Regions from separate parts of the Homo sapiens genome. Here all the other regions are reported to be linked to region 1. Evidence: microRNA targets listed by miRTarBase, many of them from high-throughput screens and not tested one by one. Region 1 holds a microRNA gene; each other region holds the end of a gene's coding sequence. Distances are between the middles of the regions.

Region 1 (10,393 bases):
GACAATGCAGATGGGATTTGCCCAGAGAAGAGCACCGACCCACAACTTATTGAGTCAGCAACTGAGTAAATCAGGGAATAAAAACCTCTATCTTTAGATACCCCTGTAAATATCTGTTTTACATTTTTTTTAAATCAAAGAGTGGTTAATAATTGCTGCTCAGCTGAGCCCTCTTGCCTATAGCTTACAATGCTTCCACTTCTCTGAGCATTTAAAATAAGGCACTTTGTCTAGAAACCCACTGATAAAAAAGGAATTTGTAAACGAAGGCAGAAGTTTTCTTTGGTCAGTTTCCAGCTGTCCTGGAGGTGAAAGAGGGTGGGAGAGGGGGAGGAAGGTGGGAGGGAAGAAAACCCTCAAGCTGAATGAAATCCTAATAGAGAAAATAATAGAGCAAGTCTGGATTGCAATGTGATCTGTGCTGAACTTTAGAGGTCGGCCCCTTAAAGAAAGTTCTGGAAAAATGTTATTGCCTCATCCCTAATTTTCTTAACCCCCATTAATTTCTATTCCGAAACAATTCTATATAATGAAAACATCTCTTCTACAGGGTTTGTGAAAAATAAACATAATCTCTTTTGTCCTCCTTTAAAGTTACAGTGGTTCCTGAACAAATTCTTTTCTAAGTTATACATTTTGCAACAATTCAAAAATTGACTCAAGTTCTCTTTAGCAAAATATTTTATTATAAAAGATTCCCTAAGTTTTCTTTTGTCAAAACAACTTACTTTAAAAATTACCCTTCTGATCACCCCAAAATGTGTATAAAGAAAACATTAAGTATTCTCATATATTCATGATTATTAGTTAAAATATAAACAGCAAGGAGAAATTTAGCTACTTTCACTTAGATGATATAGTAAAGTTATCCTTTCATTTTCTATTGTGACTTGGAGAGTTCCATATTAATTATTTTTAGTAGAACAAATGAGATGTTAAAAATCTATATAGTTTCTTTTACATAAGAAAACTAAAAAAAGTAACTTAGAGGAGCTCATTTTTTCAAGAAATATATTTTTTCTAATTGATACAATTACTGAAGAGGAAAAATAGCTAACAAGGTACTTTGGTAATGTTTTTCTCAAATTTTCTGGGTTTTTTTTTTTTTTTTACTCTAGAAATGATTACATTTCAAAATTTGCTTTCATTTAATGTATATTTAATTTCAATTTCTTTCTTCATGTTAAACGGTCTTTTTGTTTCAAAGAAATGAATCCCTATGGGTCCCTCACCTATTTTCTCCCTCAGGATGACTTTTAGTCTGGAGATAGAAGGGACATAAGGGTGCCTCTGGCATAAGTACAGGAGTAGAAATATAAGAATTACTTTGTAAAAGGATAACCAAGGAGTTCCTGCACATGCTTGATGTGGCTCTAGCGACTTATTTTCGAGGCAAAGTTTTAACAAATGAAAACGAATAGTACTTATTTTTCAATTATATGGGCTAAATTAAAGATCAAAGGTAAAAGCTCATTTTATAAAGCTCTGCTGAATGAAGGCAGGATTGTAGTTTATGCGCTGGTACACACGCCCACATTTATATACATTATAGCCATATCTATATCCAGGTAAATTAGAAAAATGTTTAATTTTATTTTCATATTACTTTATAAGGAGATATACAAATATTTTAGGGATCATGGAATCTATTCCAGAGGAAACTAACCAACAGTGAGCATCTTCAACTAAAACTACCCCTGGATGTAATAAGTGTAAGTATTAAAATTAAACATTATATGTGGTCATGAAGAGAAAATTGTTTCAGGGTCTGTCCAAACTACACTTCATAGAAATTTCATAATTATTTTTCATTTTAGCATGTGAATGATTGATAAATTGGACTAGGTACTGGGTTAAAAGGACTTTTCCACCATCTAAGAGAAAGGAAGTTCAGAGCCTTAGCTTCAACACCACAATTTCTTAACTGGAAAAGGATCAATCTAAAACGGTGGACTTAAATTTTCAAACTCATTTTTCTTTTAGGCCACAGATCTCAAAATCAAAGAAAGACTGTTTACTATAGGACAAAGTTTCACACTGATCACTTTCCTGTAGTTAGTCAATAGGCTTAATATCCTTCCTGCTTGGCATTCGGGCTTTCGGCCCAGATAATATGTTTATGTTTGTAAAAGACCAAAATATACTATCTACCCCCACCTCTCGCCTACAGACCACCCATGTATTTCACTCTGTGGGAAACAGTTTAGGCATAAAAATCCTAACGAAAGAATTCTCCCCACTTTTTTGGTTGAAGTCTTAAGCTGTTATAAGATATAAAAAGTACAACTTGGTAATGTGAAAAAATTCACTCATCCACAAGCATCCATGCTCGGTAAAGAGACGCCAAAGCTTTCACTTACTCTGTAAGGGATCTGCTCTTTATAAACAATGCACTTTACTCTGCTCTAAGGAGAATAGCCCACCCATCACAATAACGTCAAAATAATAACTAAGAGACCATCACTCAGAAATCCTGGCTTAAAATAACTAGAAGGTCAGGCTTTAACCTGAGACAGGAAATTCCTGAGTTAAGATAGAAACTTTCTTACTTCAAATCCCTTCTTACTTTCATGTTCTGTAAATTAAGTAGAAATAAATATTTACTCATTTTCAAAGGTCTCTTACAAATAATTTTTATCAGTTTTAATAGTTAGAGATAACGAAGTAAATTAGGAAAAATAATTAAATCTTCATTTTGAATTTTTTGACTTAGCGTGACAGCCAGTTTCCTGGAGTTGCTTTGGTTTAATTTCACTACAGAAGACTTAGAAGACAATTCTTTTCTTACATTTTTTTCCTTAAGAAATAAAAGACAAAAAGAAAACAAGGTGTAATAACCACACTAAAAATTACATGGTATGATAATAATACAAATAGCTCTTTTATGTTTTAGCTAGTATTTTAAGTAATAATAAACTAATATTCAACCTATAATTTGGGAGATTAAAAAAAGGTCAATATGGTTTTCAGTCTTTCATCTTTTTAACAAGTTTAGGGGCAGGTTCAACATAACAATGAAGTGTGCATATGTCACATAGTTACTGTAAGTGTGTTTTAAAAATCTATCAGAAACATAAATTGTCCAAAAGCCTTATGAATAGAACAATTGTTTTCAGCAAGATTTTTTTTTTCCCCTGAAAAACTGTTGTGGTTTTTCTGGCTCAAAAAATTTTTATATCTTGCCTTAATAAAACTGTTTTATATTAAAGCATAACATACAAACTCACAAATATTTCTTTTTATTTTTTCAGGTTGCATGCATCATTCCTTTAATTGAGCAGAGTTAACTGGATCAAATTATTTATGGGAGAGAGAGGAAAAGTTATAAAGAATTATAGTAATTTTTAATTTCCACCAATATACTCTTTGTAAGTGAATCACTCTATAATTACTTTCTGTTGCACTGAATGCAGCAACAATAACACAATAGTATTTTAAGGCACTGGTTTTTGGCATACTCTAACCTTGTAATTATTTAAATAACAGCCAAGTTTACTCATGTTTTTGATTCTGTCAAGAAAAAAAAAAAGTTCCTTTACTCGAAAGTGATGGCCGAAACAGAATCGGAAATTTGTTTTCTTGAAATTACATAAATACACAGAAAATGGCACTTATTAGCTTTTGTTAAAACATTACCTTACCTAATCACTGCATAAAAGTCCAGATTTGTAGAAAATTGTAATTTTCTCAGTATCTAAAACTATTTTGCTTTCCATTAAGTTTCTATTTGCTATTTTCTCAGAATTTTACAATTAAAGATAAATCACAAACTGTTTGTTTTTCTTAAAGTTCTTTGAGAAAATGTCTAATTATACAATCCTTGGACAATACTGTGTTTTTTTGGTGCTGTGTTTTTTAAGAAGTCCTACTTACTGGAATTTTGACTATTTGGATATTTTTGTTTTTAAAAGGGGAGGGGAATTTGCTTAATACTTCTAAAGATGTGAATTGATAATTGATATTAAAATAGAATTACTCTCAACTCACCAGAATTAAATTTTATATCTGCATATTTAACACTATTAGCTCATATAAATTATAAGAAAAATTTTCAAAGGATCTGGTTTTAATTTTTTGGATATGAAATGAATTTGCCTTTTCTGCCTTTTCTTAAGTACTATTTTGTAACTATATTGCACTAACTATATCCAAAACACATTCTGAGCATCACTGTGAGTAACAGCCTTCCAGTTTGTACCCTTTTGATTCACAGCATGGCCCTATAGTTAATTAAGAGGTGGATAACTTAAGCTCACAACTGCCTTTAATTTGATTTCACATCCACAGTTATAAACTTTGCATTTAAAAGGAAAATGAGACATTTAAATAGGTTCCTGTTGTTTCACATATAATTGGTAAAAACATATTCCCTTGTAGGATCCTATTATCAGAGCATCAAATACCAAAGTCAGCAACTTGGGTTGCCAAATAAATTAGGCTCATTAATTATTTTGAAAAGGGCTGCTGTTTCCATGTAAATGATAATTTTCTTTTTCATGGACAAGGTTATGGTACTTATCTACTAAAAGAAACATGCATAAACATAGTTTTTATCTTTAACTTCAGTATTAAAATATGCAGTTTTTTGCAAAGAGGAAAAACATCTGGTTCAATTACGCTGAACTCTGACTACATGTGGGCCAGTAATAATATGAATTGGACTTAAGAATAAACCTTGTGTTTAATCTCTTTTTTTCCTTAAAATTTTAATGTGAGTTTTCTGTTACGCAAATTATCCATGTTAGCACATTTGGAACAAATGTATAAATGTACTTTCTGAATAAAGTCAAAAGTCTAACTTGTTTTTAGTTCCATAATGTTTTAATGTTTAATTATATTGTGTATTTTTCTCCCTTTCCCCTTACTCTCCAAAATCACCAAATCTGGAAAACAGGCTGATTGTATCTGTCTATGAGCAAAGGAAACCTGAAGGAACCAAGGGCCTGGCTGGACAGAGTTGTCATGTGTCTGCCTGTCTACACTTGCTGTGCAGAACATCCGCTCACCTGTACAGCAGGCACAGACAGGCAGTCACATGACAACCCAGCCTGAATGACAACCAGCCATTGAAAGAAAGCAGCCCTCACACCATAGCATCTACACCAAGAGCTACAACCAAAATGAGGGGCTCGGGGGCCTGGGGTTTTAATCTGTTGGTTTAATACTTAACTCATGTATTATTTTATTTTGATTCAAGTATTAAAACCCACCAAAAGTAAAGTGAGTGGTGCCTATGAAATATAATAAAACCCATTTCTGAAAATGTTCCTGTGCATTCTATAGTTCTCTTTTCCTAATTGTTGTCAGCAAATCACTACCCTTGACCTTTATTGTACACAGCTTTGCAGCACCCTATATTGATATAAAAACTCAATATAACAAAACAATATAACTTCAGTCTGATGCTTAACAAAGAATAAATTATTCTAAGAATTCTTGTCCATAAACTAAGTATGGTTTTCTATGTCATGATTTTTTTTTTTTTTTTTTTTTTTTGGAAGGGGATAGGGTGGAAAGACAGAGAAAAGAAAAGGGAGAAAAAGAGTATTCCAAAGGATCAAGTGCTTTGAGTTAACTCTGCCAGTCTGGGTTAACTCTGCCAGTCTGGGTCTGGGCAAAACACAGTGAAAAGACTACTATTTCCAACTAGTGTTCAACTATATTAAAATAATAGTTTCTCCTCTTTTGACATATGGAAAGTTGAAATTTTTGATACTTCCACGCGTCATGGTATACATAAATTTATGACTGCGTCATTCTTTAATTAAGAAGGTGCTTATGCTACAGTTCTAGGAGTAGAATTTACAAGGCCAACACATTCACTTGCAACCTATGCTTCCATCACTATAAACTTTCAAGATCTTGAGATGTTCAGGCAATTCATTTATCTTCAGAAGCATAAGGAAAGTGGTTAATGCACTTGAAATGTATATTTTGACACATCTTTTGAGAAAATATCCAAACTTCAGTTTATGCACTGTTAACTGGAGTGAAATGATAAGGGATGGCTTTTGTCTATGAATACTTTAAATACTTAAGGGTAAAAGGTGGGAAGATGGATAAAATTAGAAATGTGTCAACTTTTATTTAGTTCATTAACATGTTTTAGCTTCAGTATTTGAAATTAATTTTCATCTTTCTTAGATTCTGGTCAAGCTTAAAAAATGTAACACAAGGCTACTCAAAACTTTTTTCACATTTAACAATTAAACACTTTATGTATGTATTCTTAACTAAAGCAAACTATTTTTCATTCAGCTATTTTATTTTTAAAATGAAAGTCTCAGTCTTAAAGCTAAGATCCCAGTGAGTTTCAAATTTTCTGACAATGATATTTTAACCAAACCTGACATTATAGTTTCTTTAATTAAAAAACTGAATGATGGGGCAAAACTACAAAGCACAAATATGATTAAAGTTAAATTTCTCTCATTTAAACAATCTTGTCTTATGGCAATATGTCATCTGCTAAAATTCATCTCTGCTTCTGCAAGATACATTGCACGATGCAGATTTTTGCCTTAAATAAAAGTCCCATTACTAGCAAATAAAGTCCTAAACAATACTTACAAAATGTAGAATATAAACAGGAAGACAATATAAAAATTACTCACAGAATATCGACATCGTTCTACCCAATCTTAAATGCCTTGTACCACCTGTTGCAAATGCTGCCTATGAGAGTTCACGTATGGAATTATTCTACTGGACCCTGCAAGGCTCAGGAGAGTGCTTGACAGCTCCCAGAATGAGACAATGACCTAGCCAGAACATTAAGGAGACTACACCCGTCCTTCAGACTCCAAAGGGAAAGCTAGGACGGCAGCAGAGTCATCCTAAGGTGAGGCACTCCAGGATAACATTTTCAATATTTTTCCTTAAAACATAAAGTTAACACCTTTTTTGTTAAACATTTTTTACTCAATTTTCAAAAAAAATGCTTGAAAGAATGTTTTGTATGTATTTTAAAGTCATTAAATGAGGCACATTTAAAAATTTTTCTCTTCTGGGAAAGGGTAATATAAAGGATAATATTGCTCTTCCAGGATAAACTTTTGAGTGGGACAAATAATGCATATAGGGGAGTGGGTTTGAATCTAAACTCATTTTTAATAAATTTGGAATAGGATTGGCCATTATGGTTTATTGAATAATACTCTTTTTTTCAAAATTATAAATCTTTAGATAATACCAGAACATGGAAATATTTGTATGAATAATCCTATATTAAAAAAGAATAACATCAGATAGTTTATGTATGTAAAAAAATATACAACTGTGATCATGCAGAATTTTAAGTAATATAAGTGGATTAGAGTTCAATATTTACTGGGACTTTTGTGAAAATATCTAAGTTTTGGCTAACTAAATAACTTAACGAAGGAGTGTGAACAGTGTTCACAGGGTCGACGCTGACCTTTTCCACCACAGGGAGTGTGCAGATCTGGTAGGAAATATGCACAATCTTAAAAGTATAAGTGAAACTAGAAAGAGAGCTGAATATTTCTATAACTTCTTGATCTCACAACTTTGATCATCCAGGGATATAACTGTCATTTTGTTTCCTATTTCTGAAGTTACATTTGTCATTTGTTATTGTTACAAAATGAAAACAATGCTAAGTAAATATCCCTATAAGGGAATTATATAATCTCCTTATCAAGTTATCCAAACACTTCAACCCACAAAAATGAGGCCTGTAATTTCTTAAGAGTCCAAAGAATGTCCTTATTTCAATGCAGATGTTGGGTTTTCCTCAATAGTATAAGGTTAGCAGATTTCCACTGGAAACGCCTATGTTGCATTATTCTGCTTGCCTAGGAGTAGCTCATTATGATTTAAATCTTTACACACTGGGCTATAGAAATAGAATAAATATTGACTAAGTGCTTTTATTATACATAAATTAACAGTCCTCTTTCTTCAGAGATTTGAATTATCTCTTAAAATTTACATATTTATGTATTTTTAAAACAAATTTCTCATTGGTTTTAAGAAAAATAAGGCTCTTTTCTCCTTGAATCAGGGTCTCCCATTCTCCTAAAATTCACATTTTAGACATAAGTTAAAGAAAAGCCATCATTTTTTTCAAGTCTGATTTTAAAGTATTAATGTAAAATTATCTAGATCAAAAATCCATTTCAAAAAACTTTTGAAATGACAGTTTCTGTTTTATTCTCACATCTTGCTTTTTACTAAATCCCTTTCCAAAAATGTACAACATATATGGGCAATGTATGAAAACAACATTGGGAAATTAATTTTCTGTTTAAATGATTTTCAATCCAGGAAGTCACATATATATAGTCAGAGGATAAAAAACAAACAAACAAACAAAAAACAAAAACAAAAACAAAAAAACACTAACCTTCAATGATGAAAATTAACAAAATTTAAGACAATTTAAGACAATCTACCTTTAGTGGTAATTTTATTCTGTAATTCAATAATTTAATTTTGACACTTGATATGCCAGGACGTGATTAATTATTATGCTGCATTTATTCATTCATTTGCTCAATGACACCTTCATTCAATCAATATTTAGTTAGTGTCTCCTATCAGTGCTATGTCCCCTGGTGGTAGGACAGGGAACAAACAATGTCTCCTGGTCTCAAGAGGCTTACAGTTTGCTGCAACTCTTAGCATGTGTGATGAGTTGTTCATGTCAATTTTCACCTTCCAAAAACATCTCTTAAATCCGTTCATTTTTATCAAATTCCAACAACTCATCCCAGCCCAAGCTACCATTATCTATGCAGACCACAATAGATGTAGAAAGCAATAGCTTTCTAGTAACTCCCCAGTCCAGTTTCGCCCTCTTCCAATCCATTCTCCACAAGGCAACCAAAGGAATCAGTAAAGAATTCAAATCTTATCATGTGACTCTCCAGCTTAAAAAACTTCTCATCATTCTTAATATCAAAATCCTCATCTTTAGAGTGCCTTTCTCTTTTTGCTCCAGTCACACTGGACTTAATTACCCTCCTTAAATTCATCAGGCTCAATCCTGCCTCAGAACATTAACACAAACCTTCTCTGACCATCCAATGTAAAGTACCCCCTACCTGTGTCCTCTATCCCAGACACTCTATGTCAACTCATCACTGGCTTTATTTTCTTCCTAGCCTGTAATCAGCATCTGCTAGGTTTTCCTATTTATTTGTATGTTTGCTTTATTGGGAAAGAGCCTTCATAAGAATAGGTACCATGAATTCCTTGCTAATCATTTTATCCTTAGTGATTAGGACAGTGCCTGGTACATAACAAGTGTTCAGAAAGTAATTGTTGGGAAATGTTCAGATGATTAAGAGCACAGCACTGACACTTAGCACCTGGCTAAGTTACTCACTCTCTTTTGAGCCTCAATTCTTTATCTCTAAAATGGAGAATGTAAATAATGTGCTCAGTGAACTATAAATACTCAATAACTATTAGCCATTATGGTGATGATCCTCCTCATTAAGATCATCATTGAGTTTGAGTTGTGGTTGCAAGTAGCATTCCCCCTAGTCATTATACCTGCTTAAATTCACGAAGGCCAGCTTTCAGTCTCAATGATGATCTTAATGATGAGAACTTCCTGTCTTGTTTCTTGAGAGTTCTGAATGAGTAACAGAAGCTAGTGACTCAATCATAGCTGTGTGTAGCCCATAATTTTGCTACCTTGAACTTAAGTGCTCCGCACCCTCACCACCAGCTACTACCCAGCCACCATCCTCTCTTGCCTGGACCATGGTCAGAGTTTCCAATCTGGTCTCCCTTCTTCCATGCTAGCCATCCCCGCTCCCTTCACGCATCCACCCCATACCACTTATTATGCACAATCCAGCAGCCAGGGCAATCTTTCTAAACCATCAATCCAATCATGTCACAACCTGTTGGAACACTCCAATCATTTTCAGTTATCCTTGTAATAAAATCCAAACCATTGGGTAGGGACTGATAAGGCCCCCATCTACTGGTACCTCTGATTTTATCTCCTTTCTCCCCCACTGTTCCTATGTTACAGCCACAGACTTCCTGTTGGATCCCATCTCCAGGGTTTTTATACTTACTGTTCCCTCTACCTGGAATATTCTTCAGCAAAATCTTCTGCACAGCTCATCATCTCAGTCTCTGCTCAAGTGGTACTTCCTTCCAATCACCCAAATCTAAAGACCCCTCCCCTATCACTTTCTAACTCAATGCCCCATTTTATTTTCTTCAGAGCATTTACTATCTGACATTTATTACTAGTCTATTTGCTTGTTAGCTCCATAGAACAGTAACTTTGTCATTTCCTCTTTTTTAAAATGATCTAAATGGATGAAACTACCCTTTCCTAGAATTTCTTCATCTAAATAATTCCATTTATTTCAAGGGTCATTTCCACTCTCACCTGCCCCCAACT
Region 2 (10,393 bases), 8.8 Mb from region 1:
TATCTGACTCTGGTTCTGATGCATATGCAGTTTCTTCCTACTGTTGCTTTTTCCTTTAGTGTGCCTTTTACCTTTTTGTTGAAAAGTGGACATGATATACTGGGTAAAAGGAACTGTGGTAAATAGACCTTTACCATAGATGGGGTGGTGAGGCCGGGGGGTGGCATTTTCTAGTCCTGTGATTAGGTCTTAGCCTCTGGTGAGCCTGTGCCCCTGGCCCGTGAACTTCACTAGTGCTTCCCAGTTTTTCTACTGTTAGGTGGAACTGGATGGCTAGAGAAGACTGGAGTTGGGTATTTTCCTTCCCCCAGGTTAGTCAGACTCTGGTTAGTTTCTTTTGAGGGCAGACTTTGTTTAGAACAGAGTGCTCTGGAGTATTTCGTAGTGATTCTTTTTCCCCTCCGCCTGCTGGAAGCATGAGGGGATTTTTCCCAATATTCGCTGAGAACCTGGTCAAGCTCCTGGAGGTAAAACCCACAGAAGTGTGGGGGTCCCCTTCGCCTGGGTCCACCTGGAGTGTTTTTGTTTGTTTGTTTTTCATCTCAGACTTGTCCACACTGAGCCTTCAGCGACTCATCAATTAAAGCTAAGGTTTTCCTACCAGAACACTGGTTCCTATGGAGTTTGTTGCTTCGTGGGTTTCTGCTCTGATAAGCTGTGATTCTCTGTATGCATCTGTAGGTTTCTGCAGTTTTAGGGGCAGCAGTTTACCATGTGACCTCACTTCTCTGATGGATCTAAGAAGAGTTTTGCTTTTTCAGTTTGTTCAGCTTTTTACTTGTTACGACAGAGTGATGACTTCTAAGCTTCTTACATACTTGGCTGGAAATTAAAAATTTAACATTTTTAATCAGATGAGAGAATGCCAGTTATAAAAGTTTTCTTGACCATTGAAGTAATAGTTAAACAGGTCAAAGTGTGACCTGCAGTAGGCCATCTCTGCCTTCCCTAGACCTTTGGAACAGTCCTACCTGAGAACAACGAGTGATGGACCTGGGGTCTTTGTCCTGCTCAGAGTTAACTAAATGAGTTTCTAGTATGTCTGAGGTAGACCAAGGTGATCACCACTTAGAAGGTACTTGCTTTACTTATAATTTGGTGGCAGTTCTCTTGTCCAGTTCTAAGACTTTGATATCCATAATATTTAAAATAATTTTAAGTACATGTTTTGCCTTGTGGAGAGTTTAGCAGTTTATTTTCATAGATTGAGATCTTTTTGCAACGTGATTCTCAATAACTATAGTGTGCTAAAATCAGTGGGCTTTCAAAGAAACTTTAGTGAATCAATATGTCTTTATATTTCTATTTAAATGGAACTCTTATTCCTAGTGGTTGTACTGCATTTTCATACGCTAGTGAATTCTGTTATCAGTCGGGCCCTTTGTGGAAGATGCCAAAACTCATCAGTGGAAGGACTGCTCATTTTTTCTACATGTCTCCAAATTAAGGAAGCATCCTGATGTTGACAGCATCCTCTGTGCCCTAGGTTTGGGTATTGCACAGTGTGTGTATGACAGGGTTGTGTTGTTTAATTCTCACAACAGCCCTGCGGGGCAGCTGTTGTAGAGTTGGGACCACAGGATTGTGAGCTGCAGCAGGGCTCCCCCAGGGCCTGTCTGGGCCCTTCTGTCTCACAGGGCCTCCCTGCTCTCAGCCATTTGGATGGACTCTAGTCAAGTTGTTTCCTGTGCCTGCTGTTCCAAATTGTTGGTAGGGCAGAAAGTTTCAGAAAAAAAATTCCACTTTCATTTACAGAGGAGCTGTACAAGGTACTTTAACACAGTTACTAGTTAAGTAATCTTACTTGACTAGGTGTGGTGTGAAATTAATCATGCTGTCTCACTGGAGCTTGCTTTTTCAGCTGTATATTTCCTGAAGTGACCAGCAGTAGCTTTCATCTCCTTTCCCTCCTCCCGTTGTGCTCATTGAGAAAAGAATGTGATTATTGTTTAATTAAATGACTTGACTTTTATGGGAGATTAAAGCAGGCAGGCTTTGATCTGTAACACCATTGCCAACACCTTTTTTGAGGATATGCTAACTACCAGCAGAAAGCTAAGATCCGCAGATTTTAATTAAAGACTTGAGACACAAAGCATGTAATTATTACGAGACATTTTCAGGGGACTGGCAAAGTTGTGACTGCATGCGAAGTGCAGGCCAAGAACAGAGCAGCATTAGAGCATCAGGCACCTAGGCAGGTGTAAGATCATGGCCCCGTCATTTGCACGTTCTGCCCCTTTTCTGCTTCAAAGGGTGCCATAAATTCCATATAACTGTATCTTGGGGAATGTGGAGTCCCTGTGAGAGCTAATCCCCATGTCCTGCCTTCCAGATCGGCGCCAATGGTGTGCCATAGCCATCCTCTTTGCAGTCCTGTTGGTTGTGCTCATCCTCTTCTTAGTGCTGTGACGGCGGGGCCTCTGGGTGCGAGTTCCTCCTGCATATGAACCGAGGGGAGGAGGAGAAGCTGAGCACGTGTGACATTGCCGTCTACTCACATTCCTATCCTGGAAACATACTGCTGCACTGACTTTTCTCCGTGTGACCCCACAATTGACATGGCTCCTCCATCCCAGCGCTGGAAGGGCCAGTGGGAAGAGGAAATAGATGTCTGCACTCCTGGCTGCAGCTGGACAACAGAAGCCCCATGCCGCCTGTCCAGTTCGGAGGAGAACTAGCTGCTGCCTTGCCTTCCGGGACCTCGTTTGCTGAGGAGGGACTTACAGACTCCACTGGTGTTTTGCTGTTGCTCATTCCATGCATCTTTGGCAGCTCTTTTCTTCTGCTCAGACCCTTCCCCGTGCTCAGACAGTGCACCGCTGTCCCATCTAAAGAAACCTGTCAGGAATACGAGCTTCTGGGTATGTTTCGTTTCCCATTGCTGTAGCATTTCTTATCCCCTGAGAGCTGATGATTATTGAGGACAGAAGGCTCAGAAACAGTTTGTGACAGAAAATGCAGTGTTTCATTTTTCAGGGATAAATGCTAAGATAAAATTGCTTTTCCAGGTCATTTTTTTTTGTGGTAAGAATAACTAATGGAAAATAATGAAACACCCTGGGGTTTGGGGGTGCTAACAACTTGTGGCTTTAACTGACAGGAGCAATTAAAAAGAGCAAGAGGGTTCTGCATTGGCATAGCTTAGGGAAGGGTTAATGATGTCGCCACAGGTCAGCTCCTGATCCTTGCCGACTTGATGTTGCTGTACCAGGGCTTCCTCCCCAGAGGTGCAGCTTGCGTTTTGAGGGTGATTGCTACATATGTTGTTGCTAAACAGCTCAGTAACACACTTGAATGAATTTGGATACCAGATTGTCCTCATTACAGTTCTTTTACTCTTAGGGCACTCTACACTGGGGGTTGGGGTTGGGAGTGGTTAGTACATTTATTACATTTATTAAGAAACGTAATGACATAAAAGGTTAGCTCTGGGCCAGACTTCTCTTACTCTGTGGGTAATGGCAAGGATGTGTAGGTAAACTTGGTTCTTTTTTTTCCCTAAGATGACAGCTTGATTTTATCATCTGCAGTCAAATAACTGAGCCAATCCAAATTTAAATGATAGATGCTTTAATTGAGTTTAAGTAGCTGAAACTGCTGAGACACTAAACTTTAACCTTCTGATGACTTTTTAAAATGCCTCAAATGTGCACATGTATATAGGATATTTTTATAACTTCCCTGATGAATAATCTGATATTAAAGTAGTATTTGGACCCAGAGCCAGAACTCGGTGGTGGAGGCTGCTGGTCTCTCCTCACCACCTTCTTTTGCACTTGGAAAGAACAGCAACATCTGGATAGAGTTCTAGCTTTGACTTCTCATTTCCTTGTCTTTTTGGGTGCATTCCTCAGCACACTTTTTTTTTAAACCTTTTTGTTTTGTTTTGTTTGTATTTCATGTGGTTTTATTTGGGGGTTTTGGTTTTTTCACCCTTTTTTGTGATTTGCAATGATGTGCTTGCCCAGCTAACTTTTGAATTGCACTTTTTAATAAATATTCTTAACAATTTTTGAAGAAGGATATTTTATCTCATTTGAGATCATGGTAGGTTAAGAAAATATGCCTGTTGATGAAAGCTAAAAGCAAATTTATGAAACTAAAAGGGTGATTGACATCCATGTTTACACTCCGCTCTAATGTTTGATATATAAATAAGTTATTTTCAAATTAGGAAAAAACAGTGAGTATTACAAAGGGCTTCAGATGTTTAGAGTACTAGGTTATTTATGTTTTACAAAGTTTGAATCTTCTATAAACTAAGAAAGGGGATGATCCTTAGATTTGCATTAAAATATAGAAGTCTTTTAAAGTAAATGTGAACCTTGTCTAAGTACTGTAATCCACACAACACATTATAAGAAGCAAACCAGCATCTTAAGGAATTATAAAATTACCCTATTTAAAAGCCATGCTATTGTTCTGCTATTACCAGATTTATTGTGCCACACAAAAGGATCATGTGTGTCAGCAGGGGCCGTTTGGAACAAACCTAGTCATTAATGAGTAAGATACTCCTGTTAGTTCAGGGACCAAGTTTTATGACCCAGAGGCTTAATGATGTTTGGATATATTTCAAATCGGCGTGCTTACCTCACTGATTTAAATTATTTTCTAAATAGTGGCCATTGTAGACCTGACTCAGGCTGAAGCTAAATAGAGAACAATTTAGAAAGTTAACTAACAATACAGTGCATTCTACCCGTAGGGCCACCATGCCCTTCTGCCCCTGGCTGATTTGATCCTGTGTCTGATCCCATTGCACCCTGACTGGGCAGTCCCTACAGAACCAGTGTTAATTTGAAGGGCCTCCACTCAGGCTCCAAATGTGGCAGCCAAAGAGAACAATCCAGGGAACCTACATTTATTTTTAAGGACAAATATTTCCTCCTCAGTGGTCCTAATGTTCAGGGCTTTAGAGGGAACCCAGGTGGTCTCTTCACCCTGTGTCCTAGAATGGGAGAGTAAGTAGACAGTGGTGATAACCCCACACTGCTTATAAGTGCATCTTTATAGTATTTGGGGCTTTCCTACCCCTTTAGCCTTCTGTACCTAGTACCATATTCCAGTTTTAAAGAACTGGCAGAATGTGATGGATAACAGAGGAAGAGCTCAATTTATGTTTATTGGAAGAACATTTTACTTAAATGATTTGAGGGGTGGGAGGGAGTGAACTACTGAGTTTGCCAGAGTGAAAATCCATCTGAAAAACTCAGCTACCTTTAGTTTTTAGTCCTCATTTTTGGTCTTGTCTCTGCGGACTGTGAAGAATCACAATGCTCTATATGCCCTGGACTGTGTGGCAAATGCAGGTTGCAGCGTGTGTGTTACATGAGGATCTTCCACAATTTCAGAATGCACGCCAGAGCTGAAGGGGGAAACTTGGTAACTTGCCCATTATTCTCTGCTTTTAGCCAGAGTTAAACAGACTGATGGGTCTGGTAGCCAACAACTTGGCAACTTCCACTCCTTCTCACCTCGTGAGATTAAGGGCTGTGAAAAGAAATCTAGTCTAACTCCAACAGAAATCTGTCTCTGTTAAGTGTTTTACCTTCTGTAAGTAGAGATGGTAGAGCCAAGATTTTTCTTTTGGTAATTTCCCTGTCTATAAAGTGAGACCAAAGGGATATCTGTTCCCTGTTACCTTTTTGGAGAATTCATAACATTTGAAGATCAAAAAATTGAATGATAAATATGAATGGCTTTTCAATTCTGTGGACTTTGTACCATTTGGCTTCACCTTGTACTGCAAGATGAATTTGTAAACAAAACAAAATTGGACTGTCTGGAAAGCTAAAGTTCTGAAATATGGAATGTACTGCCTCTAATTTTTCTTTGTCTTCCTCTCACTGGCATTTTTTTCTCTCCCAGGTTTCTTAAGAATAATGTTTTTTAAAGGAGGCTTTTTGCCCATCAAGAATAAAAAGAAATAAAACCAAAGGGTTACCGGACTTAAGCCCCCGCAGTCACTGTGCGCCATCCCTGAGCAAAGTCCGCCCCTGAGGACAGTGCCCCTGCCCCAGTGACAGGCCTTACTCCTCCCAGGGCCTTTGCTTCTAATAGGGGGTGGTCTTTCTTTTCTTTCTCTCCTTTTTTTTTTTTTGATTAAAAAATAAAACCAAACCAGAATTTGCTGAAAGCAGGTACCTTTCAGTAGCTCCGATCAGAGTAACTCAGCTTAGAGATACTGTTACTCAGGACAACAGTATGTACAAAAGTCTCCGGAAAAGGAAAATAAAACAACCTGAAAAGAATTCAACTTGAAAAGGACTGAATTACTAGAATGATCATATAGCAGAATAACACAAAATGCAACAAAGAGCCACCCAAGCCTGAGGGTAAGACCTCTACTTCCCAGATTCTTGGATCATAGCCCATGACTTCTTGGGGCACAGAGGCTGGCTTCAGCATGAGGATCTCACCACTAACTGCATGTAACTCATCCATGCCTTGGGCAGAGGCTAAACACACGGAACAAGGCCACCAGACAGGTACACATGAACCCATGAGAGCGGTGCTCTCTGTAGAGTCTATAGACCTGGCAGGGACCATGGATAGCTTAGAGGTACTTACTCTGCAGCTGGTCACATAAGACCCTAGACTGGCCAGGCGCGGTGTCTCACACCTGTAATCCCAGCACTTTGGGAGGCCGAGGCGGGCAGATCACGAGGTCAGGAGATCGAGACCATCCTGGCTAACACGGTGAACCCCATCTCTACTAAAAATACAAAAAATTAGCTGGGCGTGGTGGCGGGTGCCTGTAGTCCCAGCTACTCGGGAGGCTGAGGCAGGAGAATGGCGTGAACCTGGGAGGCAGAGCTTGCAGTGAGCCAAGATCGCGCCACTGCACTCCAGCCTGGGCGACAGAGCCAGACTCCGTCTCAAAAAAAAAAAAAGACCCTAGACTGACCTAAGCCCTACAGTTCCCTTATCCAAATTCCCACTAACCAGTGAGAGAGAGGGACAAGACTTGGAAGCTGCCTCCAAACCAATTTTTGGTCTACAGTAAACAAGGATAAACATAAAACACCATTCCACAGGCCAGCTTCAAAAGAACTAGTGTGCAAAGAAGGTGAGAGATCCCAAAGCCCCATTTAGTAACCCCCACCGAAGGAGGGGGATGGGTGTGGGTGGTGAGATGGCCTGTTCTGCTGCTGTGGGCACCCCTGTGACCTGTCCTGCTCTGCCATCCGGCCTTAATTCGTACAGTTACCCCCGCTTCCTAGATGTGCACTCTCATGGCCCAGAGCTCTCACCTTTCTGAGCCTGAGCCTCCCGGCCTCCAGCGTACACAGAGTGGAAATGCCAGATCCTAAGGGTTCTCTGAGGAGGGTGAGGTGGCAGTTTTTCTGAGAACCTGGGGTCCTTCCATGCCACAACAGTTGTAGGTGGGGCAGGCCAAAGAGGATGCTGAGTTACTGGAGGCAGAGAGCAGTCGGTCAAAGAGCAGGGAGGAGAATACAGCTGGGAAAATGATGAGAAGTTTCCATTGCATGGACTCAGCAAGCAATTTCTGGGGTCACCTCAGTTATGAGGCGTGAACAGCAAAGCTTTAAAACTGATGTGAGAACAGTGTGTCTCCCTTTTTCCAAATTCCCCAGAGGAACACTACTCCCTGCTCTGGAACTTCACATCAAAGAAACAATACACCTGATGGGAAGAAGTCTTTTCAGGACCCCAGAAGTGCCCATTGGAGGCCCATCAGAAAAGTCTGGCTGCTTCTCGTTTGTGGGTCCGCACATTTTGGGCAAGATGGCTAGAGGGCTGGAGGTTTCCCAAGGCCTCTAGATGCAGTTGTGCAAAATCAATCCTCCACAAATCACTGGCCCTTGGTAGTATGCTCGTTCCACCACCCACTGGAAGTGAGGAAGATCTTTTTGCTGTCAGAGAGGGCTGTCCTTCACTAACACCATAAATCTGCTCCCTGGCTGCTGGAGTGCACAGGCCAAGGGGGTCTTGAAGATCCTCGTGTCAAACTTGAGTGTCAGGCTTGCAGTTGGTTTCACCGTAGATAACCCTTGTTGCCCTACAGCTTGGGTAACTGTTATTGTGTCTTGACCTTTTGCTCTTCCTCTTCCTTGTCTGAACTGCGTTCCCTTCTTAGATAAAGGACAACTTTTATGTTTATTTTCTTCGTCCACTGTCATGTCACCCACTTGCACAGGAGTCCCACCTTATCTGCGGTTTCACTTTCTGAGGTTTCAGAAATGGGTTGCACTGGAAAGCACTGTGCCTATACAAAGATTTCAGCAAGGGAGTTCCTATGTATATAAGGGAAGAAACAGTTTATCTAGTCAGTACAATCTGTGGTTTCAAGCATCCACTGTGGGTCTTGGAATGTATCCCTGCAAAAAGGCGGTGGGGCAGGGGGCACTTCTGTATACTTCAAAACGTGCACGATGAAAACATAGTGTTATCTGTCAATCTGAAAACAAAATCGCCATGACTTCTGGGCACTGTAGTCCTACCTGTGGACTGGCTGCCTGACTGTGGAGCGTCCTTGTATTGGACACTGAGGGACTAAGATGGCGACTTCTCATTTGGCAGCCTGTGGCAGCTGAGTTTGAATTTGGTGGTGGCCGTCGCATGTTAGGGTAGCCATAGAGCTGCTCGCTGTCAGCCGGAGCAGCAAGCACAGTTTCACTTGACCCATTTTACACCTGTTGTCTCCACCCAAGCACCATGGCTCCAGTTAGGAAGGGCAACCGTTGGGTGGCCAAGAACAACTTGTTACGGAGCCAGAAGCTGACCTCCTTTCTTAAGGATTTCAGCTGTGAAGTGCAAATACTATGGAAGCCAATTCAGTCAGGCAGAACCTCTCCCAGAAGATTGATAAGATGCATGACCAGGCCACTCAGCGGCTTCCTGAGGCACAGTGTGACATGAACTGGTAATGCACAGACTGTGCATTCGTAGCTGTTTCGTGAGTAATATGCAGAGTGTGTGTCTTGGGTATTTTAAAGTACGTGAGAGGGTTGTTTCAGCAGCTGATGGGATGCCAAATGTTTGACTTTTTATTATTCCAGCCCTTCAGATTTCCCCAGAATTGTCACCTTGTAGAGCGTGTGTCTTCCCAGTGTGTTCCAGGAATTCTCTATACCACTGTCGTGTTGCTCAGAAAACAATAGAGCTCTCAGTCAGTTCAGGTAACCTTAGAATCTGCGCTGATGCCTCAGAAAGGAAGAAAGGCCAGGACGGCCTCGGGGGTGGCACTCTTATTTCTCCCTTGGTTTCACTTCCTTTTCCATTTTTTGTGGCTTCCCACTTCATCCCGCAGCCTCCTCTCATAGGCTGTCCCCCCTTACCCCCACTCCATTCTTCCCACTCTCTAGCCCATTTGTGTCCTCAGAGGTCTGGCTGCTGCCACTGCACCTGCCTCAGACCCAGTGTCACCTCGCCAGGGCTTCAGCCAGCCTGGCCTTCCAGCTGCCACCCAGCAGCGCAGCAACTCAGAACCTTCTGGCCCAGACCTTCATACCCAACTCCCGCCCAGGGCAAATACAGAAGCCTCTGCTGGTGCAGCCAACACGGAGTGGGGAAAAAGGGGAGAGGAAAAGCAGCAGCTTCCTGTGCTTCCCAGCTCAGGGCATTGGTAAGAGTGGATGGAATTTGGCATTCTGCTTCTACCATTTTGAATGAATTGGCCTATTCTTTTATACCATCACCCCTCCCTTCCAAATCATTCATTCTGGTGTGCAGCCCATTTCTGTCTATTTTCTAATGAAATGACCAGAGCCACCATGTAAGCTTGTGCCCTGCACAAGGATAGATACCCCACTGGGGAACAAACGGGACCAAAATCCACTCTGTGTTCTGCTGGCCAAGCCGGGTGACCTGGCCTGGGCTGGCGTCCTCCCAGAAGAAGGGTTCATTTTTCCAGTTTGCACACATGTGCTATTTGTGGGTTAGCTGAGGCCCTGCTCATGTCTTCGGTTGGTTCACAAATCAGAAACAGAACAAATGGCCAGAGATTAGTGTTGTAATCAAACTAGATTTACAACCAAGGCACGCTGAGTGGCATTATGGGTTTTATCCTGCGGCATGGCAAGCCGCTCATGCACAGGCTGTGCTCAGTGTCCTTTTTCCTCAGCCATGCCAGCCATGGGGAAGCAGGAGGGGAGCTTGTTGGAGAAGGCGGCCTCAGTGAGAGCCTTGGTGCATTCCCCTGAAGCCACAGTTGGGGGCTTCTCCTTCAGCAGGGGTCCCCATAGTCTGAGTGTTTTCAGAAATCTTAGGTCCAAGGGACCCCCAATTTTTTTTTGTTTGTTTTTTTGTTTTTGAGGTTGAGTCTCACTCTGTCGCCCAGGCTGGAGTGCAATGGTGCGATCTCGGCTCACTGCAACCTCTGCCTCCCGGGCTCAAGTGATACTTGTGCTTCAGCCTTCTCCCT
Region 3 (10,393 bases), not on the chromosome of region 1:
ATCTTGACAGATGTGGAAAAAAGCCATTTAATAAAACCCCAACATCCATTACTAATAATATTTTCATCAAACTAGAAATAGAGGGCATAACCTGAATGTATAATTCAAATATTAAGATTATTTTACACTAAGAGTCAAATTTATAGTTTTGGAGAAACACTCTTCTAAGTAAAAAAAATTTGATATATATATATCAAATAATGTACAATATCAGCACAATTATGTAAATGTTTTTTAACATTGTTCTAAAAGTACCAGTCAATGTGATGAGTTGAGAAAGTGAAATAAGATTACAAATATGGGAATAAAATTATCAACCTACCCAGAACTATTACCCAACTGAAAAAGGCGAAAGAAATTAACAACAGCAAAACCTTTAGAATAATTCAGTAACTGGCTAGTTACAAAATCAATAACCAATCGCCAAGTTAAACTATTATACAACTACACACTACTCTCTTATGCAGAGGTAAGAATGAGGTAGATTGATGTGTACTGACATAGGAAGATCTATTGCAAAGAGAAAAATGCTAACAGCAGAAGGGTTGTCTCATATGGTCAAAGTGCTAAAACATACTTTAGGAAAAAACTGATGAATATGCTGTTGACTTTTTCTGGGGGAAAGGGATTTTAATTATGGGGGACTTTAATTTTCTACATTATGTTTTTAAATAATGTTTACACTTACATAAGTCTAATGTTTTAAAGTCATAAAAGCGATAGATTTAATTTTCATTTTTTAAAGTAGTAGGATCTCATTTACAATAGTAACCACACTAAAAAAATCACCTATACTAGAAAAGATAGGCTGAGAAACATAAAACATAAATTTACTGAAAGGTTAAATATTATAAAGATGTTAGTCCTCTTGTGTAAAATATGTAAATTTTACTCAATCCAATTTCTAATTTTTCTAAACATAAAATTATCTCAAACTTCTTTTGGAAGGTTTTTTTTTTGTTTTGTTTTTTGTTTTTTTGAGACAGAGTCTCGCTCCGTTGCCCAGGCTGGTGCTATCTCAGCTCACTGCAACCTCTGCCTCCTGGGTTCACTGCCTCAGCCTCCCAAGTAGCTGAGATTACAGGTTCCTATCACCACAGCCAGCTAATTTTTTTTTTTTTTTTTTTTTTTTGTATTTTTAGTAGAGATGGGGTTTCGCCATGTTATCCAGGCTGGTCTCGAACTCCTGATCTCAGGTGATCCATCCACCTTGGCCTCCCAAAGTGCTGGGATTACAGGCGTGAGCCACCATGCCCGGCCTGCACAATATACTAGGCAAGTTTTGAAAAAGTTTAATGGGGAAGTTTAGTCCAAAGCTATGGCGATCCAAACAATGTGGTACCAGTGCTAGAATGTGCAGGAAGATCACAACCCATAATAAAGAGTTCACAGCACACTCAAGGCCAGGGTGCTTATCCTGGCACCCAACAGAAGGGCTACTAGGTGTATGGCAAAAATGGGATTTCATATAGAATAAAGGACAGACTTCCCAATAAACAGTGTTGGGGTAATTTAGAAAATACATTCCAGATAGATCAGAGGTTTTTAAAATTTTTTTTAGAGACAGGGTCTTGCTCTGTTCCCCAGGCTGGAGTGCACCGGTGCCATCAAAGCTCACTGTAACCTCAAATGCCTGGACTCAAGTGATCCTTCCACCTTGGCGACCCAAAGTGTTGGGATTACAGGCAAGAGCCAACACGCCCAGCCAGATCACAGATTTAACTGTTTAGAAAGAAATAATAAAAGTACAAGAATAAGATAGTGGTGAATATTTATACAACCTTGCCATCAGAATTGGGAAGACCTCGCCGGGCTTGGTGGCTCACACCTGTAATTCCAGCACTTTGGGAGGCCAAGGCGTGTGGATTGCCTGAGTTCAGGAGTTCGAGACCAGCCTAGGCAACATGGCGAAACCCATCTCTACTAAAAACAAAAAGTTACCTGGGCGTGGTGGCATACACTTGTAGTCCCAGCTACTCAGGAGGGAGGTTGACACATGAGAATCGCTTGAACCCGGGAGGCGCAGGTTGCAGTGAGCTGAGATCACGCCACTGCACTCCAGCCTGGGGGCCAGGGTGGACCCCGTCTCAAAAAAAAAAAAAAAAAAAAAAAAAAAAAAGAATTGGAAAGACCTGCATAAGCATGACGGCATAGGTAGCAACCATTAAAAAAAAAAAAAAAAGTAACAGATAAACTTGACTAAAAGGTGTTTTTTTAAATGTCTAAACGTTTTTAAAAAGCCATACGTGCAACTTAAAATTTTGTTTTACAATGTTTATGAAATAAACCTCTTAGAAATCAATGATACTGCTGAACACCTTAAAGGGTTACATTTTAACCAAAAAAATATTTTTTTTAGCTCTCTGTCCCCAGGGTAACTCCAGTGTTAAAGAGGAAGCAGTACACACTCACACACTGTGGGTGGGAGTATAATTGGGTCTGTCTTTCTGGAAGGCAATTTGAGGCAATACATATTACAAGTCCTAAAAATGTGCATTCTTTTTTATTGTTGCAACAGGATATGTTATGCTGCAGTTAACCAATTAACCCTGAAACCCCAGTGTTTAACACCTAAGGTTTATTTTTTTTATTCATGCTACCCGTCCATGCAGGGTGGCAGGTGAGGGTAACATGAAGGGAGAAGGGGGCTGCTCCACGTAGTCACTCAGGGATCCAGGCTTGACAGAGGCTCTGTCCCTGGGACATCAGCATTTGCTGAGGGAAGGGAAGGCAGACACTGCGGAACTGCTCATGGGCATTTCAGTGTCTGTCTGGAGCTTCATGTGTCACCTGTGCTCACATTTCATTGGCCAGAATTAGTCATAGGACCCTGAATGAGTACAAGGGGGATGGAGGGTGAAGTCCTGTATGCCTCAGAAGGAAAGGAGCCGCAGATAGGGAGGCGCGTACTTTTGAGCCAGTGATAACTTCAGAAAATTACCCTAAGTCAATATTCTGAAAAGTTCGCAAGGATGTTAGAAGAACTTCATTATGTCCTTGACTACAACAGTAAAAAAATTGGAAACAACCTAAGTATCCAAGGTACAACCTACATAGAGGTTAAAAATAATGTAATTACATATTTACTGATATAGAAATCTATTCACAATATAGCATTAAAAGGGATAAAAGTTATAAAACAGTATGTATAATATGATTATATTTCATGGAAAAAGTAATAAAACACACACAGATGCATAGAAAAAAGTCTGAAAAGATAAAAACTGAAATGTTAACAGTGGTTATAATCAGATAGTGTAATAACAGGTGATTGGTTTTTTTCCCACTCATCTGGAATTTCTTTAAAAAAAGTATTATATTATTTATGTACCAAGAAAGCATTTAAAAAGGGAAACAAAAAACAGTACTCTTGGGAGAGTTCACTTATCCACTCCACTCTTCTCATTAAACTCTTATATTTGATGCAAGGAATGTCTTCTTGCCTGTCACATCATAAGACGCTGCTCTCACAACTGACGTAAAGTCGGGACTTCCTATTAAAAGCAGTACAAGAGGGTAAAAACAATAGCACAGCCTCACAGCTGTGAATCATCAGTCCTGCCCATCACTCGCCAAAACATGCACCACTTGGGACTCTGCCGTGGTTTACGGGCTCCTGCCAGGTGCCCTGGGGGTCTCTAGGGCCCAGGAGAACACTTTGCCGCAAGGCTCTGCACCGTCAAAGAGAGTAGGGCACTGAACAATTCCACTTCAAACAAAAGATCCACAAACTTCTGGTAAATGGATTCCAGAACATAGATCACCACCACCAGAAATAGAAAATAAAGTCTCCTCTTAGGTATACATATTTTTAATTAAAAACGCTTCCTTACTGTTTCTCCCACTTCCCCTTTTGCTGTTTCTTCACACACACACACACACACACACACACACACACACACACACACGCGTGCGCACATACACAGTCGTAAGTTCACTAGAACATTTCATCCAGCTCAAAATTCTTACCAAAGCCACCTTCCTGCCTGGGTAGTGTTTAAAGCCAACTAGAAAACCCATATTCTTGAGATCGGTACATGGAAGAGGCATGTAAGTAACATTTTCTAGACTAGACAGGAGTCCCTCTCCATGCCAAAACCCCCATCATCTCCAGAATATATACTGTTTCTTTGGGGAAGCCATGTACTCAGAAATTAGGGTCCTTTTAAAGCATGCATATCTTTAAAAATATACATGGACATTGATCTTGCAAGCTTCTAGTTTGCAAGTGCTTCAAAATCTAGTGATGTCTCAAGGCAATGAAAGAATTTAGCTTCTAGAAGGATGAATGGAACAAACAATCCACTTCTGGATATTAGCAAAGACCAGTGGCTGCCTCTTTTGAGTGCCTGTGCTAAGTCACATCACGTCTGCCTTCTTCCCAAAGGTGCACCTGGCCACATGTGAGGTCCCACCATAACGTCCCCAGCGCGTCCTGTGGTTGGCTCTCATCCAAAATTGTCCCTGGTTTCTATAGAGAAGGAGACTTTTCTAAAGAAAAAGAGCCCTGTTAAAATAGGCAGAGCATGATGTTTCTGGGAGGCATATTCACTGTATTACGCTCCACCCTTTACTTGATGTTTTGCATCAAATGTAGTCCACAGCAGGCAGGCGCCTGCCCACCACCATCAAGGCTGTGCTCATGGAGCCTGCAGGCTGGAGACCAACTGCCCTCTGTGCACAGTCTTCCTGGGTGTTGATCAGGTCCCGTTCAAGCTGCTCCCACCACTGAGCAAGGCTGCTCCCTCCCCAGAAAGCCAGAAAGGAGTGCATCTCCAGGAAGGGGCGGGCAGTGGACAGGCCACCCCCAGCCAGAACTCTGTTTCCATTCCTGCGATCTCAGGGCCTCCCACTTGTTTTGAACATACTGCTCTGCCTCCACTAAAGCCATCAATAAAGAACTCAGGGTGTGTTTGTTTTCCATAGAACTGGCCTCACAGGCAGAGACATCATTTTAACCAACTTTCTTGGAAAGATTCCTGCAAAACCAGAATCATTCCAAAGTGGAACTTATCATTTATAACAAACATTCCTAAATGTCATTCGGATTCACATTTTTGTAAACTGTCCTTTGCTGTGGACACATATTGAAATAATATAATTGTAATATGCTCTTATCAGGATATAAGAATTATTTTCTCTTGGCACCCACGGGTCACCAAAGGGACTAGAGTGGCATGTCTCAAAAGATACTGCATCAAGGTCCAGGAGACCTGGATGCAGAGTCCACGCTGCTGGTCACCGCTGGGTGACCCTGGGCGTGTCACTTTCTCTGTCTCTACTTCCCATCTGCAAAATGCAGGTGACAGTCTCTGCCCTGTTCTCTCACCCAATTAAAGTCTAATGTGATGGCAGGCAGGAGAGATGAAACTGAGGGGCCACACAAGTTCGAGGTCTTGTGTGGATACTGGTTCTCTTTCCCTCCAAGGCCTGACCATACTGTCCCAACCTGTTGCTCTGGTGGTTTTACATTCCCCGGGCGGCACTAGGAAGGCTTCCTCGCCACTCCCAACTTTAAAATGCATCCAGCTGGGTCTTGACTGGAATGAAAGGTTATTTTTAAAGGTCCTCTTGGTTAAAGGGTTCCAAGTTTTAGTTGATCTTTTTTAGACACCAGGTTTCATGGAGGCAGAAGGAAAGCTTATCAAGGTATAGCAGCCAGTCTTGGAAACACCAAAATCAGGAGACCTCAATTGCAAACTGAAAATGCAGTCCTGGCCCTGCAGCTTCCAGGCAGCACAAGCGGCTGCGATGCTCACGAGTGAATGGCTTACATTCTGCCTGAGTCTGGCGTAAGGTTATGACAACAGTACTGAGACTGGGCTGGATGTCAGAATAAACGAGGGCACGTCACACCAGCTCAAGGGAACACCGTCCAGGTTGCTCCAGGGCCACTATTTTAAAAGAAAGTAAATGAAAAGACACTGAGATCTTCAGAGAAAAGCAGAAGGAATGGAAAGTTCAGTGCTTTTGTAAAAGCTGTTGTGCTTTCACGGCCAAGCCCAACTTACCTTTCCCTTTAAGGGAGTCCTTACTACTCTTAGCTCCAGGGTTGCAACAGCTGTAGAGCTGGACACACAGCAGGAGGAATCCAAGTTCCTCACCTGCTGCCCACAGGATGCTCACCACACTCTTCAGTGCTTGGTGAACTGGGATCATGGGTCTCAACTGCACAGCAGCCCACTGTGGAAATGGCTCTTCCAACATTTTCTACACCTCCACTTCTGGAGTTTTCTAAAGTCACTGCTATCAGAATGTACAAGTGGCTTCAGTAACTATTCTATGCATGTCACCTGAGCATTCTCTTGTCAGTCAAGCGGGCTCTTTCTAGATTCATAAGTCACCTGATAAAGGCAGAGGTCATCTGAAGACCCCAGCGGAAGGTGTTTGGAACCCAGTGTCCACTGCTCCCAGGCAGCCACACACCCAGCCTGCTGCTGGGCAGACCAGGCTGGCTTGAGAATCCCCTTATCCCGCTGCTGGGCCACGGGGCTGACTCATAGCCAGCTCGGCTCTCTGGTCTCCTGGTGCAGCCAGGAGGGAGCTGCTACCAACTGTCCTGAGAGCCGTCTGGAGCTCTGGGGAAAGGGAAGGGCCAGCAGCAGACTACCCCGAATCACAAAGATGGCTGGCCACGCTTTCCACTTCCTGTCTGCCAAAAGCCCTATGTACTCAACCAAAGCCCCCACTCACCTTGCGGGAGCTCCTCTAAAAGTGCCTTGGTGCTCCAGATGCCCAGCCTTCCCTTCCATCCACATCCCAAACAAGACTCCCCAGCTCAGAGAGGCGTCTCCGTGAGGGGAAGGGAAGGAGAGCAGGAGGACTCGTGTTCACCTTGGGGCCCAGGGCACCTGGGTTCGGACCCCATCTCCCTCCTTCCTCGGGTTGTTTGCTCATTAATCCAAATTCAGCAGGGAGAAAGTCTAACCACGTCCATGGGAGAAGGTTTCTAGAAGGAGTAGTCCTCTTAGGTGGTTCTCAAAGGGGTGAGGGGGCACCAAAGCCTCCCCCCTGCTCAAGGCATTTAGAGATGTGTGGGGCCAGGGATTCAAGCCATTATTGCCACACACGGGCAATCTCCCAGGGCAGGATGCCAACAGCACCCACAGGCCCGCTGGCCCCACTGAGCAGCTCTGTGAGAGAGGAGAGGTTTATGGCTGCAGTCCCTTCCCTAGGAGAAACTGAAAAAGGCAGGACGCAGAGCTGGGTGGAACACCTCTGTCATGAGGGCCAAGGCTTGTCAGCTGAGCTGCTCTCTCCCCCCGAAATGCCTGTGATTTCTTCCCAGCTGTCCAGACCCATAAGACAATCCTACCCTAGGTACCAAGCCCTGGGCAGCCCCTATACCTGGAATCCCTGGGTCACCATTCCTAGGGGAGAAGGTGATTCGAGGGTCTGGAGAGCCCCAGGGGCAGAGCATCACGGATGGGCTCCAGGGGCCTGAGACCAGCTCCTGCTGCTTCCCCTTCTCCCTCCCTGCCCCAGGGCCACCCGAGCCCCAGCTTGGGTTTGACCAGACAGTGGTATTCATGTCTGTTAACTACCCAGCACAGCAAAGATGGTGCATCATTCGACAGGGTCCCAGCTCTGCTGTGGGGTTTGATTAAAACACTAAATTCTGTGTACACATTTAATTGAACAAATATTTATTAAGCACCTACTTTGTGCCAGACATTGTGCTAGGCACCCTCACTGTGTGCTGTTCCCACAGCACAATCATCTGCTCAGAAATTAAAACCAAGAAAAGGAACACTGTTGCAACCGTACAAACTGGGGGGGCGGGGGGCAGGGGGCAGTAGCGTGGATGCAGGCAACTCCGGGCCAGAAAATGCACCCACCAGAAGCTTGTTTTCCATCTCTCAGAAAGTTTCCACTAAACAGTTGTTTTAAAGCCTCTCGATGTTGACAGAGAGGAATGTTGTTCTCTCTGTGCCCCCCGGGGCTGGTGTCTGGTGGACATTCAAATACTCTGAATGCTATTTGATAAAAGGAGCCTGATGGCTTGGTGTAAAGAATATCAATATTTGGATTACAAAATGCGTGTTTTTTCAGTTCATATGGTTGCAACAGCCCTTATGAAAGATATAAACATCCCTGCCCTGACTGCATAAATGTTGAAGGTAGACCTAGTTCTGGATTCCTGAGTCAGAATCTTCCAGTTGTCCACAACCTCACAAGGCCAGAGAAGCGAGAGGAGATTTCTATTCTGAAAAGGAGTGAGTGGACGGCACAACTGGTTTGGAAACACGACAAACTGCGCCTGCATTTACAGAAGCAATGCACACAGAAGAACGTCCTAGAGCTATCTGGTCTCGCACACACGCTTGGGACTCACGGGCGGGGCCTGGGCCTCGGCCAGCCCTAGTTATCGGTGCCCAGCTTGGAGAGCCCTCGGCGGAAGTCATGCAGGTCGTCAATCTTCCCGTCCAGCACCTCCAGGAAGCTCTTCAACTCCACCTTCAGGTGGCGCTGTCGGTATTTGCTCTCCTCAATGTCTGTCTTTAAGGAACGCACTTTGTCTTCCAGGTTTTGATTGTCTCTCTCTGCCGCCTGGCCAAGCAAAAGGGAGAAGGGTCTAGAAAACTGAGTGACGAGAGTCATCCTTCAAAACCTGCTACAGCTGAACCAACCATTCTCCATCCAATCTGAGGGCCTGGGCCAGGGCTTAAGCTGCCTAGAGACATGCTACCCCAGCACACAAGCCTGTGACCAAGACATCAGAAGGGAAGCAGCAGGCACTTCAGTGACCTCCTCCTTTCCTGCCTGCTCTCCCACAGAGGGACCAACACCCAGCCTGAAAACCCAAGACCCAACAAAGCAGGCAGAACGCAGAGTCCTGCCTGAGGGAGACCTCACACAGGGCCCAGCAGGGAAAGTCTGAAATCCCTGTCTGAGTGGCTAGCAGAGACCACATTTCAGTTCCATCCTGAGAGACAGAACAGATGGGAGAGTGGCTCGTTCCCCTGGTCCCACAGAGAGGCGTGGCCTCCTCAGCCCCAGGCCAGCCTCTGGCCCTCAGAGAGGAAGGACTGGCCATGCCAATGACTCAGGGACAGCCAGTCTGTGCACCCTCTGATGCTGTTACCATGGAGATGTTCTGTGGCGCTGGGCCCCACAAGCCTACAGAGGCACATCTAGGTAAATCACAAGCAGGTTCCCAAAGACAGGACAGCTGTGAGTCCTTAAATGAGCCATAAGCCTTTAACTCTTCATATCAAATAAGAGCTTTATGTTGAGGGAATAAACAGAGACCTTTCTGAACATGTGCACAGGAAGCAGTTACCAATTCCAGGGTCATGTAACTACATGAAGCGCCGTGTGCATATCAGAGGACCTGCAGGGAAGAGGCGCTCCGAGGTGGAGGAAGCCCTGAAAATCCTCATTTTAGTGATCAGAAATCTGAGGATAGGGAGGAAGGCCTGCCCAAGGTCAGTGCCCAAGGCCACTGGCAGGGGAGTGGCTGAAGTGGCCCCACACCCTGACCCTGGGCTCTCAGGCCGCCCCCCCGCTCCTCACCCCCACCAGGGATCTGCAAGGAAACAGTCGTCTACACTGTGGTGATGCACAGGGGCCTTCATAGAACTTGCAAAACCAAAAGACAAACGTTGCTGAGTCTGCCCCGGGGGCAGGGGTGGATGCGGTGCCATCTGGCGTGCAGTCACTGCCAGCTTTTTGTGAATAGAAAATCTCTCCTTCAGCATTCTCAGTGTGAAAGTGATAGGAAGCAGGAAAATGAGTACCATGACATTTGTGCCTTCTTGTCTGAGCCAGGATGGCTGTGCCCCCAACCCACGTACCTCTAGCTTCTCAGAGACATATTCGCACTCTGACATGAGCTGAGGTATGATTTCACTTTGTTTTCGGAGATCTTTCAGCTCCTACATGAAAAAAATTTGAGATAGAACATGAAAGCAAGTCAGATAAAATATATTCTTGAAAATCACCAATGTGTGCACGCTCGTGGAAGCAGCTTTGGGACCCTGTCCTGTTTGCATAGACAGTGATAGTGACCATGCGAATACTTCATCTCAGGGAATTTCAAGGGTGAAGTGTGTCACACGCCTTGTCACGTGAAGTCTGTACACACCACCACAAGGCAGATGTTTTTCCGATTTCTGTTTTATAAGTGGAGAAAGTGAGGCCTAGGGAGTTTGGTAACATGAGCACGGCCTCCAACATGTGTGCACTTAACTGTCTGCCCCCTAGAAAATAAATGACTGTAGGCCAGGCATGGTGGCAGTGAGTGCAGGTGGCTGGCGCCGGGAGCTGGGCTGCGGTGTGGTGGGCACGTGTGTGTGGTGCTCTCATGGCGTGTGTCTATAGTCCCAGCTACACAGGAGGCTGAGGTGGGCGGAATGCTTCAGCCCAGTTCAAGACCAGCCTGGGCAACATA

The links. The annotated mature microRNA hsa-miR-214-3p reads ACAGCAGGCACAGACAGGCAGU and lies in region 1 at 5,011-5,032, shown strand. An mRNA with a match to its seed (bases 2 to 7 or 8) in the 3' UTR can be bound and repressed. Matches are read on the target gene's strand: a 7mer-m8 pairs with bases 2 to 8, a 7mer-A1 pairs with bases 2 to 7 and ends in A, and an 8mer does both.
Region 2: miRTarBase lists STX6 as a target of hsa-miR-214-3p. Seed matches in the 3' UTR shown: 7mer-A1 at 3,598-3,604.
Region 3: the mRNA of HOMER2 is a reported target of hsa-miR-214-3p. The part of its 3' UTR that is shown has no 7-base or 8-base seed match.

The regions. Positions count from the first base shown.
Region 1 is chr1:172,133,455-172,143,847 of GRCh38, reverse strand. MIR214 (microRNA 214) reads left to right here and starts at 4,941; the gene lies at 4,941-5,050. All of the region lies in intron 14 of DNM3 (dynamin 3), which reads right to left. DNM3OS (DNM3 opposite strand/antisense RNA) reads left to right here. Exons shown (of 4, transcript NR_103486.1): 3 at 1,635-1,712; 4 at 3,252-6,969. It overlaps MIR3120 (microRNA 3120), which reads right to left and starts at 5,040; the gene lies at 4,960-5,040.
Region 2 is chr1:180,968,589-180,978,981 of GRCh38, reverse strand. STX6 (syntaxin 6) reads left to right here. Exons shown (of 8, transcript NM_005819.6): 8 at 2,336-6,257. The coding sequence ends at 2,412. It also overlaps the pseudogene MR1P1. Among named protein-coding and RNA genes, the nearest start is that of KIAA1614-AS1, 19 kb to the right of the region's middle.
Region 3 is chr15:82,841,354-82,851,746 of GRCh38, forward strand. It overlaps HOMER2 (homer scaffold protein 2), which reads right to left. Exons shown (of 9, transcript NM_004839.4): 8 at 9,798-9,878; 9 at 7,630-8,550. The coding sequence ends at 8,362. Among named protein-coding and RNA genes, the nearest start is that of WHAMM, 37 kb to the left of the region's middle. RefSeq lists an enhancer at 8,448-9,223.